Linked DNA regions of Homo sapiens. The protein of the gene in region 2 binds, or shares a complex with, the protein of the main gene of each other region. Each region holds a gene or a part of one and is shown on either strand. Other genes may lie near its edges. A codon is read from its position in the direction of its gene.

What was found.
Region 1: the proteins of H3-5 (region 2) and KMT2C are in contact, whole or in part, in a crystal structure (PDB 7W6L), measured with the Homo sapiens proteins. Residues at the interface, in NP_001013721.2 of Homo sapiens: Ala2 (codon at 4,938), Arg3 (codon at 4,941), Thr4 (codon at 4,944), Lys5 (codon at 4,947), Gln6 (codon at 4,950), Thr7 (codon at 4,953), Ala8 (codon at 4,956); in NP_733751.2 of Homo sapiens: Tyr4800, Ala4810, Asn4811, Glu4814, Val4824, Tyr4825, Met4826, Phe4827, Arg4828, Val4834, Arg4845, Ala4857, Glu4858, Val4859, Ile4868, Tyr4884, Asp4885, Tyr4886, Lys4887, Phe4888, Asp4889, Glu4891, Ile4897.
Region 3: the proteins of H3-5 (region 2) and TAP2 are in contact, whole or in part, in a cryo-EM structure (PDB 8T4F), measured with the Homo sapiens proteins. Residues at the interface, in NP_001013721.2 of Homo sapiens: Arg52 (codon at 5,088), Arg53 (codon at 5,091), Thr58 (codon at 5,106), Glu59 (codon at 5,109), Leu60 (codon at 5,112); in NP_001276972.1 of Homo sapiens: Arg210 (codon at 7,746), Gly211 (codon at 7,749), Phe214 (codon at 7,758), Thr215, Met218, Pro265, Leu266, Asn269, Val270, Arg273, Arg373, Leu377, Arg381.

Annotation. Positions count from the first base shown.
Region 1 is NC_000007.14:152,425,981-152,433,003, reverse strand, and holds part of KMT2C (histone-lysine N-methyltransferase 2C), read left to right. Parts: intron 1-7,023. UniProt on the Homo sapiens protein: Histone methyltransferase that catalyzes methyl group transfer from S-adenosyl-L-methionine to the epsilon-amino group of 'Lys-4' of histone H3 (H3K4).
Region 2 is NC_000012.12:31,790,683-31,797,100, reverse strand, and holds H3-5 (histone H3.3C), read left to right. Parts: upstream 1-4,802; 5' UTR 4,803-4,934; coding exon 4,935-5,342; 3' UTR 5,343-5,916; downstream 5,917-6,418. UniProt on the Homo sapiens protein: Core component of nucleosome. Nucleosomes wrap and compact DNA into chromatin, limiting DNA accessibility to the cellular machineries which require DNA as a template.
Region 3 is NC_000006.12:32,835,717-32,843,499, reverse strand, and holds the start of TAP2 (antigen peptide transporter 2), read left to right. Parts: upstream 1-4,760; 5' UTR 4,761-4,847; intron 4,848-5,262; 5' UTR 5,263-5,266; coding exon 5,267-5,759; intron 5,760-5,848; coding exon 5,849-5,963; intron 5,964-7,726; coding exon 7,727-7,783. Other genes in the region: PSMB8 (proteasome subunit beta type-8 isoform E2 precursor), read left to right, coding at 411-558, 717-828, 1,237-1,366, 1,765-1,969, 2,453-2,541. UniProt on the Homo sapiens protein: ABC transporter associated with antigen processing. In complex with TAP1 mediates unidirectional translocation of peptide antigens from cytosol to endoplasmic reticulum (ER) for loading onto MHC class I (MHCI) molecules.

The DNA.
Region 1 (7,023 bases), on a different chromosome or scaffold from region 2:
GCTAATTTTTTGTATTTTTAGTAGACACAGGGTTTCACCATGTTGGCCAGGCTGGTCTTGAACCCCCGACCTCAGGTAATCCACTCTCCTCAGCCTCCCAAAGTGCCAGGATTACAGGCGTGAGCCACCGCACCCCGCTGAGAAGATGCCTTTTGACAATGAAGTGGATTTATGTATTTATCTTTGGCTTAAAAAAACATGCACCACCAATTACACTTTCCTCAAGTTTAAATTTTTAATAATTAGGTAAATAAAGCATTTTCTTGTCTTATAGTGTTAGCTAGATTGTTTTTGTGTATTTTGTCATGAATAAAAAGCATAGCTATATAGTTACTGCTTTTACATTAACTATAAATATCTTAAAATTTTACTACCTAAAATCAAGAAACTTGAACTGAAGCTATTAATCTTAGAGTTGGAAAAGTAAATACATAGAGGTTTCCTATTGTACAAATGTCAAGTGGCACAGTGAAATTTACATTCATTTGAAAGTTTTCCTTAACTGTAAAAAGTATCAAATTATTTGATAATTTGGAGTAGTTCATCATCTTTATCAGAGGCACAGGTCTTAACCATTGGCAGGCCTCTGTCAGAATATGCACATATTAAAGATCTCATTATTTTTGTGTTAATGTTAAAAAATTTTTCTGAAGCTTTTTTCTTATTTTTTCCATCCTTACACTGTAAATTCACATTACCAAGTTGGGAAGCCAAAGAAACATTCTACTCTACTATGTTTCTTACCAGTTCATGAAAGTTGATGTTAGAAATGGGTGTGGGTGTGGGGGATGGGGGTGGTTGTACAGAAGCAGCAGGTGGTAGGTATAGGATTTCTGAAGCACTATCCTTGGCCTTTTTTGAGTAAACTCTTTATACCCTGAACCACTTTCTTTTCAGAGGGCAATTGCTATTATTAGAGAGCCACCTTAAGCATTATTGTTGTAGAAAAATTAGGCACAACCAGTGATTGTCATTACAAGGACCAGCAAAAATGGCTAGGTTGCTACTCTGTATTTGTAACGCCCTTCCCCCAACAAAATTTCTCCTTTTCATAGCTGTGAATTTGAAATAAGTGATAGAAAACTGTACTGCATTACAATATATACCATTTAATAAAACAAGTTTATAGTTGAGAGACAGCACTATTATTCATGCTTTTTGAGATAATGCAAATTTGTAATTTTTATGACAGCAATTCTTAATAATTTATTGTCCAAGAGATCTGATAAAATTTTTGATATTATTGGTCTCTGGGACTCAATAGGCACTGAAATGTTTTAATTCAGTTGAAAAGTTGACTCAGGATTGCTACCCTCTCTTACCTGTTAGGAGGTTGTTGTTTAACCTGACCTGAAATTCCCATGAATAAGAACCTGTTTTTTTTCTTTTTTTTTTTTTTTGACAGAGTCTTGCTCTGCCGCCCAGGCTGGAGTGCAGTGGTGCGATCTTGGCTCGCTGCAACTTCCGCCTCCCAGGTTCAAGTGATTCTCCTGTCTCAGCCTCCCAAGTAGCTGGAGTAGCTGGGACTGCAGGCACGTACTACCATGCCTGACTAATTTTTGTATTTTTAGTAGAGACGGGGTTTCACCCTGTTAGCCAGGATGGTCTCAATCTCTTGACCTCATGATCTGCCTGCCTGGGCCTCCCAAAGTGCTGGGATTACAGACATGAAACACCGCACCTGGCCCAGGGAATTTCTAATATTTGAGAAGATGTTATTTTTAGTCTATTATACAAATTTATATATTGTTTACTAATATATAAATTTACATATTAGTTACTAATATGTAAACTTACCAATTTACATATTGGTTACTAATATGTAAACTTGATAAACATGGATTTCCATGGAAATATAAAAGTATCACAACAATTTGTTTTCCCATTCTGACACTTGTGATTTATTACATTTTCGTACTATTTCAGTTAATTCCATAATGCCAGAATTGTTGTTAATCTGCCAAGTGACAAGCCACACTGCTTCATCTCATTCCTCTGTTCCGCAAAACTGCAAAGTTTCCCAGACCACAGTCAGGTTTCTCTGGGTAGATAGTGGTTGTCCAACTCTGTAAACTTAAGTCACTTTAAGTTTATGATGGAGGGGCTTCGTGAAACTTCATTGACCTTCCAAGGTGAAAATTGGTCAGTTTCCAGTTATAAAGGACATTAAGGATGGGTGTGGTGGCTGATATATGTAATCCCAGCACTTTTGGGAGACTGAGTCAGGAGGATCACTTAATCCTCATTTAAAAGGAGTTTGAGACCAGCCTGGGCAACAAAGTGAGGCCTTGTCTCTACAAAAAAATTAGCTGGGTGTGGTGGTAGGCACCTGTAGTCCCAACTACTCTGGAGACTGAGCTGAGAGAAGATTGTGTGAGGCTTGGAGGTTGAGGCTGCAGTGAACGGACATCACACCACTACACTCTAGTCAGGTGACAGAGCAAGACTCTCTAAATAAATAGGAACATTAGATGGTCTCTCTGCACTCTTGCCTGGTGGGGACGTGTTAGATACCCTCGTTAGGTTGTGATTTAGTTTTTAATCTGTGAGATGTTTGGGCCAAACAACTTTTAGCTGCCATGGAATAAACTTTACAGTCAGCGTGTGAGTTTGTGTTTGCCTTTACTTTTTTTTTTCTATATTGTTTTGGTCCATTTTTATCTTTTAATTTCAGAAAGCTGATTAATCTCTTCCTTTTCTCTTTAAAAATTTTCTTTATCATGTTTGTGCTACAGTGGTTATTTTGAGAACTTGTTGGCAGGATAAGTGGCAAAAGTTACGAAGTAGAATAGAGATGATTTCTGTTTTTTTTTTTTTTTCTTTTTTTTGAGACAGTCTCACTCTCTTGCCTAGGCTGGAGTGCAGTGGCGTGATCCTGGCTCACTGTGGCTGCCGCCCTCCGGATTCAAGCGATTCGCCTGACTCAGCCTCCCAAAAAGCTGGGATTACAGGCGCATGCCACCACACCCAGCTAATTTTTGTGTTTTTAGTAGAGATGGGTGTTCACCATGTTGGCCAGGCTGGTCTCAGACTCCTGACCTCAGGTGATCTGCCTGCCTCGGCACTCCCAAAGTGCTGGGATTACAGACGTGAGCCACCACGCCCGGCTGAGATTATTTCTTTTTTTATTATAGCTATTGCTTGTAGATATATGCTGGTGGTTATCTGTGAAAATGTAATAGAAAGGCTGGGCACGGTGGCTCACACCTGTAATCCCAGCACTTTGGGAGGCTGAGGTGGGCGGATCACAAGGTCAGGAGTGGGAGACCAGCCTGGCCAATATGGTGAAACCCCGTCTCTACCAAAAATACAAAAATTAGCTGGGCGTGGTGGCAGGCACCTATAGTCCCAGTGACTCGGGAGGCTGAGGCAGGAGAATCGCTTGAACCCAGGAGGCAGAGGTTGCAGTGAGCTGAGATCATGCTATTGCACACCAGCCTGGGCGACAGAGTGAGACTCTGTCTCAAAAAGAAAAAAAAAAAAGTAATAGACCAATCTTGGATTTATAATTGGAAGTGTTGATCCCTTTATTTGCAGAATTTGAAGGACTTAAGAGCACAAGTTGAGAGAAACAAATGACACAGCTCTTTTTGCACTTTGTAATATTCTAGAAAAAGCCTCAGGTAAAAGGAAAATTGTTTCACTTTGTTTCTGCTGTTAATTTTGTGATGGCAGTAACTACATATGATCTACAAGTGTAAAATTGTTTAACAAGTCTTAAGTTTTCTATACTTCTATGTAACTTTTTAGATCTTTCATTTGGTACATGTTATTTAAAGAGCTACAAAGTGCTAAATATGTCCTGGGATGAACAGTCAACCCTGGAAGATTTATTGTGGCCTAGAGGGGTGCTCAAAGATTTGGAGGAAGTAGTATTTGAATTAGACCTTGAAGGATTGGTGGGATTTAGCCAAGTAGAATGACAAGAAAATGAGTGTGTGAGGGAGCAATGTGAATGAAATTATTGAGGGAAGGAGGTGTAAAAGGTGGGGTGGCTTCTGACTGTGTGACTAGAACAGAGGCTGTGTGTAGTGGTGAGGCCAAGCTGTGATAGTTCTTGAATGCCAGACTCATGAGTTTGGGCTTTATCCTGTAGTCCAGGAGTTATAAACTGTTTACAGGGAGCAGGTAAGCAATTTAAATGAACAGTAGGCTGCTTCTAAGAATCTGAATGACAACTGACACTTTAGACCTTGGGTTGGGGAGAAAATGGGAAATAATAACAGCCTTGGGGAAGTCTAGGAGTCCTTATGCCCTGCTTAAGGTGAAACTGATACAGAATTCTGGCTGATGGTTGCTATTTGAGATGCTGTTTCTAGATTTTTCAAGAGGGCGGAAATTTGGATTTTTATGATTTTTTTTTTTCTTTTTTGAGATGGAGTTTTACTCTTGTTGCCCAGGCTAGAGTGCAATGGTGTGATCTCGGCTCACTGCAACCTCTGCCTCCCGGGTACAAGTGATTCTCCTTCCTTAGCCTCCTGAGTAGCCAGGATTACAGGCACCCACCACCATGCCCGGCTAGTTTTTTTTTTTTTTTTTTTTTTTGTATTTTTAGTAGAGACGGGGTTTCACCATGTTGGCCAGGCTGGTCTCGAACTCCTGACCTCAGGTGATCCACCTGCCTCAGCCTCCCAAAATGATGGGATTACAGGCATGAGCCACCGCACCCAGCCCTTTTTATGATTTTTAAACTTGGATTTTAAGTGTTTTTCATTAATTAGAATCTAAAACGGTATTTGCGCCTATACTTTGTAGGCTAGGTTTAATCTGCGGACCACCAGGGGACTACAGGTCTCAATCTCTGCTTTATGCCCAGTTATTTTATTTTTTAAATGAAAGTTTTCAAAGCAGGTATTTACAGTATTCTTGAGGATAGGAACCTTACTAAATTACTTTGTATTCTGTTTAGCATTTATGCATTTGAATGTAGGCACTCAAATACTTGGTGATTTAATGATGCCTATTATTAAAAAAACACTGTGGTAATAATATGGAGACAGGAGTTACCTGGAGGCAGAGATAATAGGCTGTTACAATAGTTGTAGTGTGAGAGATCAAGCCAAAGCATAGAATGTTGGTAGTGCGAATGGGGAGGAAGATTCCAGTCACTGCAAAGGAGGAATTCGGCAGTTTCTGGCATAGATGTTGTAGCAGGCATCCAAATAGATTGGATGCCTGCTAAGCATTCGGGGAAGTAGGACTGGAGTTGAGGAATCGATTAGGATAAGTATTTAAAGATGTGACTTAACATGTAATCACTGAGAATATGGCGTATGGGAATTAGTAAAGGATTAGGATGCTTTGTTGCCCTTAGGAGATAGGGGACCAGTTATACCCGGAAAAACAAGAAAGGAAATCAGAATATATTCTCATGACAAATGGACAACATATACATACAAGATGCTCATGGCAGCAGTATTAGTAGTAGAGAAAAGTTGGCAACAACAAAATATGCATCAATGGACTACCATGCAGTTTTAAATCAAGACATAGAGATAGATCTGTGGGCCCTGAAGTGGGAGAATGTCTATGATACATTGTTGAACTAGAGAAAAACCTTTCCAAAAGTTGTAAAGCAGTAAGTTTAGCAGTAACTTTATTTTGTGAAAAGCACATAAACCCAAACTGTGTGTATATTTTGTGCATATAAAAAGATTGGGAAGAATACATAATAAATATTAATACTCTGGGGGCCGGGCGCAGTGGCTAACGCCTGTAATCCCAGCACTTTGGGAGGCCAGGAGGGTGAGTCACGAGGTCAGGAGTTCAAGACCAGCCTGGCCAAGATGGTGAAACCCCGTCTCTACTAAAACTACAAAAATTAGCCAGTCATGGTGGCAGGCGCCTGTAATCCCAGCTACTCGGGAGGCTGAGGCAGGAGAATTGCTTGAACCTGGGTGGCAGAGTTTGCAGTGAGCTGAAATCGTGCCATTGCACTCCAGCCTGGGCGACAGAGTGAGACTCTGTCTCAAAAACAAAACAAAACAAAACAAAAAAAAACTCTGGGGAGTATATTCTTTCAGTATACATTTATGCATTTAAAAAAAGAAAAAAGCTTAATACTTCAGAAATGGTAAATCATTTGACAAATGAGAAAACCAAATTCTGGGGGCATCACTGATTATAGAGCCTAGACCTTCTGGATTCAAGTCTAGGTTGTACTACATATTAGCTGTTTGACCTTGGGCAAGTTACTTAAATTTTTTGTGCTATGGTTGCCTCACCTGTAGAGAGGACGTAATAATACACCTAATTTAGGATTGTTATGAATTTATATATATGTGTAGAATTTAGAACAGTTTCTGGCATAGACTAAGTCCTATTAAGAGGTGCTGTTGTAAGGATTTAACTACTGTTGTTACTGTCATTGCCACTAATCATCAATTATCAATCAGTTGCCTGTTATAAACTATTTAGAGACAGAAGTGATTAGAAACCAAACTCACTCCAAAAATGCCATGATATAAGGCTGGGTATGTTGGCTCACACCTGTAATCCCAGTGCTTTGGGAAGCAAAGGTGGGAGGATTGCTTAAGTCTAGGCGTTAGAGACCAGCCTGGGCAACATAGTGAGATCCCCATCTCTACAAAAAATTAAAAATAGCTGGATGCGGTGGTATGCACTTGTAGCTCCAGTTACTTGGGAGGCTGAGATGGGAGGATTGCTTGAGCCCAGGAGTTGGAGGCTACAGTGAGCTGTGATCATGCCACTGCACTCCAGCCTGGGTGACAGAGCGAGACCCTATCTCCCAAAAAAAAAAAAAAAAAAAAAAACTATGACATAAAATAATGCAGTTGTTATTGGAGGCGGGGATAGTGGGGTGGCAAAGATTTTCTTTGTACGCAGATGTCCCCAATATATAGAAGAAAGATTTTTAAAAAGCTAGGTCAGCAGAAATCTCTATGAAATGTTTTTCATTATGAGCAATACACGAAAAACAGTCAAAGCAATTCCCTAGGAGTTGTATATGTAGTAATATTATTCCAAAGTTTTTTATTGCTCAAACTTTTAAATGTTGTTAGA
Region 2 (6,418 bases):
GGTGCAGTGAGCCAAGATCGCGCCACTGCACTCCACCCAGACTCTGTCTCAAAAAAAAAAAAAAAGTGGGTTTTTTTTTTCTGGAAGGAAATAGAACATATTCTCTAATATTCTCTAAGTGGTTTGTGTGCTTTGGCACACAAAAGAATGAAATGACGATGGCCTTTCTCACTGGTTGGTTTGCTGTTCCCGCAGTTAGAAGAGACTGCCCACATAGGGAGAGTGGCACAGAGGAGAGTAACATCAATCAACAGCGAATATGCACTTGATCGCGGTCTAATCAGCACCAGGCACCTCAGGGCAGCAGTATTGTCAGACGCATTGGAACCAGAGGGACTCCATCTTGAATAAGGTCTGGGTAAAATGAGGCTAACACCTACTGGGCTGCATTCCCAGGAGGTTAAGCATTCTTAGTCACAGGACAAGATAGGTCAGCAGGACAAGATAGAGGTCATAAAGACCCTGCTGATAAAACAATGCCATAAAGAAGGCAGCCAAAACCTGCCAAAACCAAGGTGGTGATGAAAGTGACCTCTAGTTGTCCTCACTGCTCACTATACGCTAATTATAATGCATTAGCATACTCAAAGACACTCCCAGCAGCACCACGACAGTTTACAAACGCCATGGCAACATTAGGAAGTTACCCTATATGGTCTAAAAGGGGAGGAACCCTCAGTTAGGGTAAATCCCTGCCCTTTTCCTGGAAAACTCATGAATGATCCACCCCTTGTTTAACATATAATCAAGAAATAACTATACGTGTACTCAGTTGAACATCCCGTGCCACTGCTCTGCCTATGGAGTAGCCATTCTTTTATTCTTTTACTTCTCTAATAAACTTGCTTTCACTTTACTTTATGAACTCGCCCCAAATTCTTTCTTGTGCAGGATCCAGAACCTTCTCTTGGGGTCTGGATTGGGACACCTTTCCTGTAACAGTATTAGTCATAACTATTATCTGAAAAAGTATATTTATATGGTACTTTACAAATTCAATTTTGCACAATAGACTCTGACTTATGTCATTCTCACAATCACCCCATAATGTCAATCCTCCCATTTCACAATAAAGAAATTGAGGCTCAGGCTGGAGACGGTGGCCCACACTTATAATCCCAGCACTTTGGGAGGCTGAGGCAATGGGATCATTTGAGGATCGGAGTTTGAAACCAGCATGGGCAACATGGTGAGATTCCAGTTCTACAAAAAAAAAAAATGTTTTTGGCCGGGCGCGGTGGCTCACACCTGTAATCCCAGCACTTTGGGAGGCCGAGGCGGGTGGATCACGAGGTCAGGAGATCGAGACCATCCTGGCTAACATGGTGAAACCCCGTCTCTACTAAAAATACAGAAAACTAGCCGGGCATGGTGGCGGGCACCTGTAGTCCCAGCTACGCAGGAGGCTGAGGTAGGAGAATGGCATGAACCCGGGACGCGGAGCTTGCAGTGAGCCAAGATTGCACCACCACACTCCAGCCTGGGCAACAGAGCGAGACTCCATCTCAAAAAAAAAAAATTGTTTTTAATTAGTTGGGCTTGGTGGGGCGATTCTAGTCCCAGGTACAAGGGACACTGAGGCAGGAGGATTGCTTGAGCCCAGGAGTTTGGGGCTGCTGCAGTGAGCCGAGATCACACCATTGCACTTTAGCCTGAGTGACAGAATGAGACCCTGTCTCAAAAAAAAAAAAAAGAAAAGAAGAAGAAGAAGAAGAAATTGAGGCTCAAGGAGGTTAGGGTGAATTGCTCAAAGCCATTCTGATGTGACCGACACCTAGAGTGAACATATGTCCTGATGTGTCCAGGACAGCCTCAGTTTATGCCTGCCTATTGTCCTGGTGTAATTATTAATAGCACCTTTTCACTCCCCGGAGTATCCTGGTTGGATAGTAAATTATATGGTCACTCTACCAAAACCTGTTTCTTTCATTCACTTAAATCCAATCTTTTATTTCATTACTGCCTTATTTCCTCCACTTAGGCAGCTTCAGGATGATTATAACAGCTGAAAAGGCTGGCTTCAGACCATGGTATCACTTCTATGAGAGAGGACATTTCAAGTTGCAAACAAACAATTCAACCAGTGACTTTTAAATTTGAAAACTACCAGTATAGTACGGCAGTGAAGAGATCAGGGTCTGAATCTCCATTAGCATAGACATTATTCAAAATGTCAGGCCTGAGAAGGAGCTAAAAAACGGCCTGTCTTGGGGGAAGAAACGGCAAGAATTTTATCGAACTTCAGCTGGAGTGGGAGAGGGGACTGTCAGCCAGAATGCGGCTAGTTTGGGGAAGAGTTGGTCAAAGAGATTCTTGAAAGAGGGAGGAATTGTTGTTGCAGATGAGCAGCCACTGTTTGGGCACTTTGGATTGATCAGCCTGGACAGGAGGAACAGTTAGGGGCTAAGATCCTGCACAGGAAGAGGTGGAAGGAACAACTACAGGCAAAGGGGACCTGCAGGGGAAAATGTTCCATGTGGAAAATGCTAGGACTTCAGGGTCTCTTAGGTTAGTTAACTCTTCTGAGCCTCATTTTCCTCATCTGTAAAATGAGGATGTTAACAGTTTAAGGTTGATTCTGAGGATGGAATGTACTCAGTACATAAGTGTTCAGCAAACAGTAGTAGCTCTTATTGTTTGAGTCTCTTCCCCGCCTTGTGCCCCTAGTGTAGTAGTAAGGGTACGGATTTTCTTTTTTTTGTTTGTTTTTGTTTTTGTTTTTGGAGGAGTCTCGCTCAGTCGCCCAGGCTGAAGTGCAGTGGCGCGATCTCCGCTCACTGCAAGCTCCGCCTCCCGGGTTCACGTCATTCTCCTGCCTCAGCCTCCCGAGTAGCTGGGACCACAGGCGCCTGCTACCATGCCCACCTATTTTTTTTTGTATTTTTAGTAGAGACGGCGTTTCACCGTGTTAGCCAGGATGGTCTCCATCTCCTGACCTCGTGATCCGCCCGCCTCGGCCTCCCAAAGTGCTGGGATTACAGGCGTGAGCCACCGCCCGGCTGGGTACGGATTTTCTTTACGCTGTATATAAAAGTCTGAGAAACTATCAATTGCTTATAATAAAGAATGAAAACTCCAAAGGCATCTGGGGTGAGGTTGAGGGTCTGCACAGAGATTATGGGGGAAGGGGACGTCCAAAGCTGTCATTGGATTCAGGCACTCAACAGATTGGAACACAGTGTAGAGATTTATGGTAGTGTGAAGGTGCTTTATTTGTTATGAATTACTCAGAGATTTTACTATATTTTAACCTGGGGCGGGGAACCCTTCCTTTTTTTGCCCTTTTGAAAATAAGGTAGATTTCTTCAGATGTGGAAAGTATCAATGGTCAATCCAATAGCTTTTCGTTATTTTATTTTTTTATTTTTGGAGGCAAAGTCTCACTCTGTTACCCTGGCTGGAGTGCAGTAGTGCAATCTGGGCTCATTGCAACATTTGCCTCCTAGGTTCAAGCAAGTCTCCTGCCTCAGCCTCCCGAGTAGCTGGGACTACAGGCGTATGCCACCACGCTTGGCTAATTTTTGTATTTTTAGTAGAGACAGGTTTTGCCATGTTGGCCAGGCTCGTCTCAAACTCCTGACCTCGTGATCCACCTGCCTCGGCCTCCCAGTGCTACCATTACAGGCGGAGCCACCACACCTGGCTCACTTTGTGGCATATTTCTAGAAGTTAAAAAACTCACCTGACAAAAGAGATACTTTGTGGCCAGGCACGGTGGCTCACTCCTGTAATCCCAGCACTTTGGGAGGCTGAAGTGGGTGGATCACTTCACGTCAGGAGTTCGAGACCAGCCTGGCGAAAATGGTAAAACCCCCGTCTCTACTAAAAATACAAAAATTAGCCAGGTGTGGTGGCAGGCACCTGTAATCCCAGCTACTTGGGAGGCTGAGACAGGAGAATTGCTTGAACCTGGGAGGTGGAGGTTTCAGCGAGACGAGATCGTGCCATTGCACTCCAGCCTGGGTGAGGACAGTGAAACTCCATCTCCCAAAAAACAAAAAAAAAAAAAAAAAAGAGAGAGAGAGAGAGAAACTTTATGATTTACTCCATGGAACAAATATCATATAGAACTGTAACATTTAAAAGTCAGATTTCTGTTTCTAAACTTTAGGTTTATACCTCTTGGCAGATGACTAGATGATTCTTTCCCCATTCCAAGAGTAACAGATATTCAGCCAACTTGTGTGTGTGTTTATCACATGTGATTCCACATTTCAGTTTGTTTCTCTATATTTTTTGTATTTTAAATTGGACAAGTATTACTTTTATAATAAGAAAAAAGATAATTACTAAAAATAAATGAGAAATACATATACATGTAGAATTTGCATAGTGTCAAGTAAATGATAAGGGTAGAAAGAGTGCAGAGAAAAAAAGGATGAAAACGAAGGTGGCTGAAGAATGCTTTGTGACGGAGGTGGGATTGAAATGAGCTTTGAAAGGCCGGGTGCAGTGGCTCACACCTGTAATCCCAGTAATTTGGGAGGCTGCGGCGGGCGGATCACCTGAGGTCAGGAGTTTGAGACCAGCCTGGCCAACATGGTGAAACTCCGTCTCTACTAAAAATACAAAAATTAACCAGGTGTGGTGGCAGGCGCCTGTAATCCCAGCTACTCTGGAGGCTGAGGCAGGAGAATCGCTCGAACCTGGGAGGTGGAGGTTGTAGTGAACCGAAATCACGCCACTGCACTCCAGCCTGGGCAACAAAGCGAGACTCCGTCTCAAAAAACAAAACAACAACAAAAAACGAAACACCGAAATGGGCTTTGAAGAATGGAAGGGATGCAGATAAAAGAGAGGAGGGCGCAGAGCGGTTTGGTCGTTCGTTGGACCAGTGTCGGTTCTTCGCTCGCGACTGCGGCTCTTCCTCGGGCAGCGGAAGCAGCGCGGAGGTCGGAGAAGTGGCCTAAAACTTCGGCGTTGGGTGAAAGAAAATGGCCCGAACCAAGCAGACTGCTCGTAAATCCACCGGTGGGAAAGCCCCCCGCAAACAGCTGGCCACGAAAGCTGCCAGGAAAAGCACCCCCTCTACCTGCGGGGTGAAGCCTCATCGCTACAGGCCTGGGACCGTGGCGCTTCGAGAGATTCGTCGTTATCAGAAGTCGACCGAGCTGCTCATCCGGAAGCTGCCCTTCCAGAGGTTGGTGAGGGAGATCGCGCAGGATTTCAACACTGACCTGAGGTTTCAGAGCGCAGCCGTCGGTGCGCTGCAGGAGGCTAGCGAAGCGTACCTGGTGGGTCTGTTGGAAGATACTAACCTGTGTGCCATCCACGCTAAGAGAGTCACCATCATGCCCAAAGACATCCAGTTGGCTCGCCGGATACGGGGAGAGAGAGCTTAAGTGAAGGCAGTTTTTATGGCATTTTGTAGTAAATTCTGTAAAATACTTTGGTTTAATTGGTGACTTTTTTTGTAAGAAATTGTTTATATGTTGCATTTGTACTTAAGTCATTCCATCTTTCACTCAGGATGAATGCGAAAAGTGACTGTTTACAGACCTCAGTGATGTCAGCACTGTTGCTCAGGAGTGACAAGTTGTTAATATGCAAAACGGATGCGTGATATTTCTTGCTTCTCATGATGCATGTTTCTGTATGTTAATGACTTGTTGGGTAGCTATTAAGGTACTAGAATTGATAAATGTGTACAACAGGGTCCTTTTGCAATAAAACTGGTTATGACTTGATCCAAGTGTTTAACAATTGGGGCTGTTAAGTCTGACCATACATCACTGTGATAGAATGTAGGCTTTTTCAAGGGTGAAGATACAAACCTTAACCACAGTGTAACTTATAGTTTCCTTTAAAAAAAAAAAATTAAACCTGGCAGCTATAGAATACAATATGTGCATTTATAATAGCTATTTTATATATTGTAGTGTCAACATTTTCAAATTAAATGTTTTACATTCACAAGTGGTGGGGAGTCTTGTCATTAAGGTGTGTGTAATTTAGAGTCCAGTTGGTTTTCTTCTGACTGCACTTGTTCTCATAGTAGTAAAATGCTATGTGCATTTATACCTTGCATAAATCCTCATTCTACCACATGTTAACTAACCCTCTAGCTGATAATGGAAACACTAACTGGGGGATTTTATTTATAAGGGCTCTAGAAAAAAATATGAGTTATTCACACCAGCATCATCTGTTAACTAATATTCTGAACTAGTGCAGCTTTTCATTGTGTTGTGTGGTTGGTCTCATAACTAGGTTGAGTTTTCTCCTCTGCTAAGAGGAAACAGTACTGAAGTTCTTTTTCTTGTGGCATTTGTATTATAAAAACTTGGTGTAGGGGAGGAGCACAAAGCTCTAGCCCACTGAACCTCTGCCGGTTAAGATGGTGTTAGGTTAGGTTACATCTGGTTACTGTCCTGGGAAAATCATTTTTATAGAGATGGCCTTCCAAGTGGTTTTAAAA
Region 3 (7,783 bases), on a different chromosome or scaffold from region 2:
TCCTCTCAGCAACTCACTGTTGCGCGACTTAGAACAAGTCACTTAGTCTAGGTCCCAAGCCCCTCTTCTGTAAAGTGAGGATACTGTTACTAAACGTGTTTTGTGAGGGTTGAATGCTTTATGCATGGAAGAAACCCTTTAAGTCACTCTCAAAATTTTTTAGTAATGGTAACATGTGCTTGCTTTCATTTCTGTTGTGCTGGAAAATGGAAAAGGTTGATACTGGCATGCCTCTTCTTTTCCTTCTCCCAAGCCATTTCCTTCTAGAGATTGGTTATTAACTGTTTCATTTATTGATGGTTAGATCATTTCTGCATATCTCCTCACCCTCATACTCCCTAAAACCTTTTCCTGGAGCCTCTTACTACAGAATTTTTCATTGCCTTTCTCAACCTCTTTTCTCTTATCAGCCCACAGAATTCTTCCAGTCCCTGGGTGGGGACGGAGAAAGGAACGTTCAGATTGAGATGGCCCATGGCACCACCACGCTCGCCTTCAAGTTCCAGCATGGAGTGATTGCAGCAGTGGATTCTCGGGCCTCAGCTGGGTCCTACATTAGTGAGTGTATACGCTCCAGCAGGCAGAATCTGGGGAGCTGGGCTCTCCTTTCCACAGGAGGCCAACTCTGCAACAAAGTGGAAGTGGATATTGATTTAGGACACACTGGGGGATCTATGGGGTCATCCCTTCTCTCCCAAAGCTCCATCTTCTTCCAGGTGCCTTACGGGTGAACAAGGTGATTGAGATTAACCCTTACCTGCTTGGCACCATGTCTGGCTGTGCAGCAGACTGTCAGTACTGGGAGCGCCTGCTGGCCAAGGAATGCAGGTAAGCGAGGCCTCTCATCTTCCTTTCTTAGCCTAGTGGTTAATCCCTGGATCTCTCAGATCATTGCTCCTTACTCTTGTCCTATGTGGTCCATCTTAGTGCTAATAGTATATTTCACAAAACAGCTTTTTGGTGATAAGACCCTTCTCCCAAATCTCAGCCTGTGCTCCACTCATAAGCCAGATAGTACGTCAGGTATTTAGCACTGACACATCCACCCTGGCGGGACAGTATCATTTACTAGGCTGCCTTTGTATGTTTCAGATACTTTAAATTCCAAATCTTTCTCTGATCTTTAGATCCTACAAAATAATTCCTTTCCAATGCTTATCTCTTTAATCATTTCCTGCCCCATCAAGTTGGAAAGAGCTAACCTCTCTTTCCTCACTCCACCTTGTCCTCACCCAGGCTGTACTATCTGCGAAATGGAGAACGTATTTCAGTGTCGGCAGCCTCCAAGCTGCTGTCCAACATGATGTGCCAGTACCGGGGCATGGGCCTCTCTATGGGCAGTATGATCTGTGGCTGGGATAAGAAGGTGGGTGCTCTCCATTCTTCATGTTCCCCCACCATGTTCCCTATGGATGACAGATCTGTTTCCCATCATATACTCCTACTCCCTCCCTGACAAGATGCATGGCATATAGAGTGCTTGGTTATAGAACTGTTTCAGTATATCCATGGACTATTTATTGGCCCAGATATGAATCATTGCATGTGTTTTGTAAGCTTGTCCCTTTTGTTAAACAGTTGATTTCAAGTTTGTTTTTCCTTTTTCATTTCTAAAGTTCGATGACTTTACCAAAGTGGTTTCCTAATTCCAATGTTCTTGTGGTAATATTAATTCTTTTGTTCACTTTTTATGTCTCATATTTGAACCCCCATGTTACCAACATCTTCCTCTCCAATTTCAGCCTGAAATCTTTCATCTTATAGGGTCCTGGACTCTACTACGTGGATGAACATGGGACTCGGCTCTCAGGAAATATGTTCTCCACGGGTAGTGGGAACACTTATGCCTACGGGGTCATGGACAGTGGCTATCGGCCTAATCTTAGCCCTGAAGAGGCCTATGACCTTGGCCGCAGGGCTATTGCTTATGCCACTCACAGAGACAGCTATTCTGGAGGCGTTGTCAATAGTAAGAGACCAATGCTCCCACCACCATGCCTGGGAGGAGTCGGCGGGTGGTGGGGGGGGTGATTTAAGATTGAGAAACCAGCCTGGCCAACATGGCGAAACCCCGTCTCTACTAAAACTACAAAAATTAGCCGGACGTGGTGACGGGTGCCTGTAGTCCCAGCTACTTGGGAGGCTGAGGCAGGAGAATCACTTGAACCTGGGAGGTGGAGCTTGCAGTGAGCCAAGATGGCGCCACTGCATTCCAGTCTGGGCCACAGAGTGAGACTCCTTCTCAAAAGAAAAAAAAGAAAATGATTGAGAGACTCAAAGGAGGGAGAGTAGTAGGGAGGAAATTTTCAGAGTCAGAAGAAGGGCATTAAAGGCCCAGTCATATGGTTTTAAGCTTGCGCATGTGTCTTGTTGCTGCCTTCAACATAACATCAGTGACAGGAACTTGCTGAGGTGAAAGGTGACTCCATGTTCTTTTCTCATTTGTCCACAGTGTACCACATGAAGGAAGATGGTTGGGTGAAAGTAGAAAGTACAGATGTCAGTGACCTGCTGCACCAGTACCGGGAAGCCAATCAATAATGGTGGTGGTGGCAGCTGGGCAGGTCTCCTCTGGGAGGTCTTGGCCGACTCAGGGACCTAAGCCACGTTAAGTCCAAGGAGAAGAAGAGGCCTAGCCTGAGCCAAAGAGAGAGTACGGGCTCAGCAGCCAGAGGAGGCCGGTGAAGTGCATCTTCTGCGTGTTCTCTATTTGAACAAGCATTTCCCCCAGGGAAGTTTCTGGGTGCCCCACTAAGTAGAATAAAGAAAAACGGTTATAAATACCTCTGTCTTGTGGCTGAATGGGGTTGGGCCTGTGGTTGTTGGGTGGGGCAGAAAGTAAAGAGACGCTTTTTCTGGAGAAGGGGCTCAGACCCCTATCTAAGAAATGTGGCCTCACCACATAGTTCTTCCTGGGGTTTCCTTCCACACTCATCTCTCCAAGACCTCAGGAAGGCTGCTCATTGCTGTCCATGGACACTTGTTTGCAATTTCACATAGGTTAGGGTCCTTTCCATAGAGAGGCACCTGGGGACTCCTGTGTGTTCCATTGTTAATGGTTTGAGGAACAGGGAGTAGGGCACCTAGGATAACTGTTTTTGACTTTATAGAGTAGGATGAAAAAGCTTCCACTTCACTTTAATATGGTAATCATATAAACACCATACCATTTATCCCAAATAACACTTTGGAGATATTGGATATTGAATATAAAGACAGACATTAAGGGTCTAATTTCATGATGTGTCATGCTGAATTGCAAGATGGCAGGACTATAATTTTAGAGGAAGAAGAGATCAGGAGGACTCCCCTAAGTGAGGAGTGTGGGGAAAATGTAAAAGATCCAGGTTAGAAGAAAGAGACACACATCATGAGATTTTCGGAATCATGCTGGAACTATGGACCATGTCACTTTCCAGAAAATAAAGGAAACAAATGCTTGAAAGTAGGAGCATGAGCTTGAGCATGGAGCTTTTTTCATTAGAGAGAGATTCTTAAAATGCCAGAATGAATAGAGTTGTAAAACTTTAGCGAGCCCCTACTTAAAATCCCTCCTCCCCACCACCACTATTTTAAACTTTAAGTGACTCCTTGGTAGTCACACAGGTAACATTTCAAAATGGTGATCTGGAATCCAAGCGACCCTTCCTTTGGGGAATTTGTTTGTTTGTTTGTTTTTAGTTTGGGAGGTGGTTTCAATCTGAAGAGTCCTTTCTGGAATAAACGAATCTTTCTGTTGCATAGGAAGGCTCTGGGTCAGGAAGGATATTTAAAAACCTAATTACTGTTCTAAACAGTGTTAAAATAGAACAAGAACCAAAGCTCAGTACGGGGCATTTCCCTCATAGGCTGAAGGTGCGCCCAACATAATTTGGAGTACAGACTCAGAGGCACCTGAACACGCGCCAGCTCAAGGTGCTCCGGCTGAGAAGGACGGATGAAGATGAACGCTCAGGGCCTACTAAATTCAAAGTCTGTACGTGAAAATCCCCTTTGGCCTGGTGAGATTGGTTGGAACCTTCTATTTAGGAGAGCCCGGCTCGCTCGCCTAAAACTGGAGCTTGCATGGAAGAGGGCACTTTTTTTTTTTTTAGACGAAGTCTCACTCTTGTCGCCCAGGCTGGAGTGCAATGACCCGATCTCGGCTCACTGAAACCTCTGCCTCCTGAGTTCAAGCGATTCCCCTGCCTCAGCCTCCCGAGTAGCTGGGATTACAGGCGTCCGCCACCACGCCCTGGCTAATTTTTGTATTTTTAGTAGAGACAGGGTTTCACCATGTTGGCCAGGCTGGTCTCGAACCCCTGACCTCAGGCGATCCGCCCGCCTCGGCCTCCCAAAGTGCTGTGATTACAGGCGTGAGCCACCGCGCCGGACCAGAAAGAAGGCACTTCTTAATAGTAGGCTCAGAGCTTGAAGTAGTAACTTTGAGAAAATTCAGTGATTCTCCAATTACAAAGCATTCTCCAATTACAAAGCAAGGACAACAGATAAAGTTGCCCTTGAGACAACTGTATTTTACTTAATGATAAAGAAACATTTTTGCAGTTTTATATCCCAGAGTAACCGCCACTAAAGGCGAGTGAGACTCATTGCAGGCCTGTACAGTGCGAACCAGAGTTCGGGCTCCAGTTCCGCTGTCTGCGGGTCTCGCGCGCCCCCTCCCGGCGGCCCAGCCCAGAATGAAGGCCTTGGCTGGGGAAGCGAAAGCGAAAGCTGCCCGAGCCCTGACGCCCGCCCTGGCCGAGCGTAGCTGGCGGACCAGAGCCGGTAGCGAGGTTGGGAGAGACGGAGCGGACCTCAGCGCTGAAGCAGAAGTCCCCGGAGCTGCGGTCTCCCCGCCGCGGCTGGTGAGTTGGTGCGGAGGGGAACCTGGAGCGCCAACAGGGACGCAGCCCAAGTGACTACCCACTCCACGCTCCTGCTTCCCAGTCCCTCTGCACCCGGCGATAGGAGGGAGCGGAGCCCGGACCACTTAGCTCGCCGCGGCAGGCGGGGGTGGGGGTGGGGGTCCGGGGATTTTTTTTTTTTTTTTTTAAGCACGAGGCTCCTGATGGTCATGCTTCCAGCTCCCCAGAAGGCCGAAAGCTGTCTGTCGTAGGAGGGGTGTACGGATGAGCACCGGTTACTCAGGAGAGCTCTCAGGGTTGAATAGGATAAAATGAGAAGCCGATGGACGGGTTAGGCGGAGCCGGGCGGGTAGGAGGGCAGGGACAAGGATTGGGACTCCACCCCCATGATTTCTCATCTCGTATCCGTTGACAGAGCCATGCGGCTCCCTGACCTGAGACCCTGGACCTCCCTGCTGCTGGTGGACGCGGCTTTACTGTGGCTGCTTCAGGGCCCTCTGGGGACTTTGCTTCCTCAAGGGCTGCCAGGACTATGGCTGGAGGGGACCCTGCGGCTGGGAGGGCTGTGGGGGCTGCTAAAGCTAAGAGGGCTGCTGGGATTTGTGGGGACACTGCTGCTCCCGCTCTGTCTGGCCACCCCCCTGACTGTCTCCCTGAGAGCCCTGGTCGCGGGGGCCTCACGTGCTCCCCCAGCCAGAGTCGCTTCAGCCCCTTGGAGCTGGCTGCTGGTGGGGTACGGGGCTGCGGGGCTCAGCTGGTCACTGTGGGCTGTTCTGAGCCCTCCTGGAGCCCAGGAGAAGGAGCAGGACCAGGTGAACAACAAAGTCTTGATGTGGAGGCTGCTGAAGCTCTCCAGGCCGGACCTGCCTCTCCTCGTTGCCGCCTTCTTCTTCCTTGTCCTTGCTGTTTTGGGTGAGTCAGGAGAGGACGTTGTGAGTTGGAGGTGGTAAAAGGGCCTGGGCACCAGCACATTCTTGTGTTATTTTTCATGCCTCTTTCAGGTGAGACATTAATCCCTCACTATTCTGGTCGTGTGATTGACATCCTGGGAGGTGATTTTGACCCCCATGCCTTTGCCAGTGCCATCTTCTTCATGTGCCTCTTCTCCTTTGGCAGGTAGGTGGTGGGCAGCTGGGTCCATTTGCTAGCCCCAAATCTTTATAGGGGTCTTCACTTCCCTAACTCCATTTCTAGGCCCTTTCAGGCGCAAAACACAAAAATACTTAAACTAAAATATGGTGAATGTAGTCACCATTCTGTTTCATCTATCCATTCATTTCTTCCTTCGTTCATATTCATCCAATATCTTCAAAGTTTATCTGATCTTATTATAGGAACAAGTTATGAGTGAAGGTAGTACAAAAGGAATTTAAGTCTCAGATGGAATGTCTCTCAGTTGTCTCTCAACATTCCTAGGTCCATGAAATTCCATTTCTTTCTGCCTCCTACCTCCTACCCCTAAGTCTGTCTCCAAAGTATCTCTCCAGGGTCACTCCCTCAGGATGGGTATGCTTCTCCCTTTCACTCTTCTTTCCCAGCTCATCTTGCCAGTCCCTGAAGATCTTACTCTGAGGCTTATCACCTTTCTTTCCAGAATCATTACTCTTTTCCCTTCACTTGCTTTCCTTTCTCTTTCTAGACATACTCAAACAAACAAACTGTTTGATAAGGCTGGGACTGGGATGAGGTGAGCGAGGCACCTGGGGTGCAAAGTTTAAGGAGGTGTGCACTCACCTTACCCAAATCCCAGCCGGCCTGATTGTCTCTATTTTTATGGTCATACTTAATTTAGAGTACCCTCGAAAACCATTTCATTGTGCCTTCATTCCATCCTGGCTGCTTTCTGCTGAAACTACAGTCGTGCACTGCATAACGAAGTTTAGGTCAATGATGGGCCACATATAAGATGGTGGACCCACAAGATTATAATACCATATTTTTACTGTACCTTTTCTATGTTTAGATACACAAATACTTACTTCTGTGTTACAGTCGCCCACAGTGTTAGGTGCAGTTATATGTTGTACAGATTTGTAGCCTAGGAGCAATAGGCTAAACTACATGGCCTAGGTGTGCAGTAGGCTATGACATCTAGGTTTGTGTAAGTACACTCTATGATGTTCATACAACGATGAAACCATCTAACGACACATTTCTCAGAACACATCCCTGTCATTAAAGTACAAACCCTCATTATATCATGTCTGACTCTCCCAAACGCCTCTTCAATATGGTAACTAAATTTGTATTAGAAACATATATTTTGTAAAATACATGCTTTTATGCTTTATATTTTTTCCTCTAAGTGTTACTGTAGCATGTAGTTGGTCTAAGAGGGATTTTCCAACTCGAAGGATGAAAGATGGGAATCACATGACTCTGGGGCTCCAGAGAATTGTGGGGGCAGGGAATTTATTATTGCAGTTCCCATGATGAAGTATCTATGATGACAGAGAAGGGCTTTGGGTATGGGGCAGGAAGGAGACCAAGGCGGAGGAGACGCACAGAGGGACAAGCCTGAGGGACGCTGGGACAGAAGCAAGCACTGGGATACTTGTTTTCACAATATCTTTTCCCTTCTATTGTAGTTTTCTATTGTGTCTAGTACAGAGTGCACTCCATAAATACTTGTAAATTTGTACATGTTATGATTTTGTTCTCACATCTAGCTCACCATGTCTCCTCTTTCTTCTTCCTCTGTGTATTCCTTACCTCTTCTCTCTCTGTGTGTCTGTCTCTCATTTCTTTCTCTTTTGCCCCTCCTGGCATGCTTTCCCCTGACTTTGCGCTTCTCTGCACTCCTGGCTTGCTCCTCTGTTTCACCCGCTGGCTTGCTCCTTCTCTGCATCTCCCTCCCCTCTTATTCTCCTACCCCACAGCTCACTGTCTGCAGGCTGCCGAGGAGGCTGCTTCACCTACACCATGTCTCGAATCAA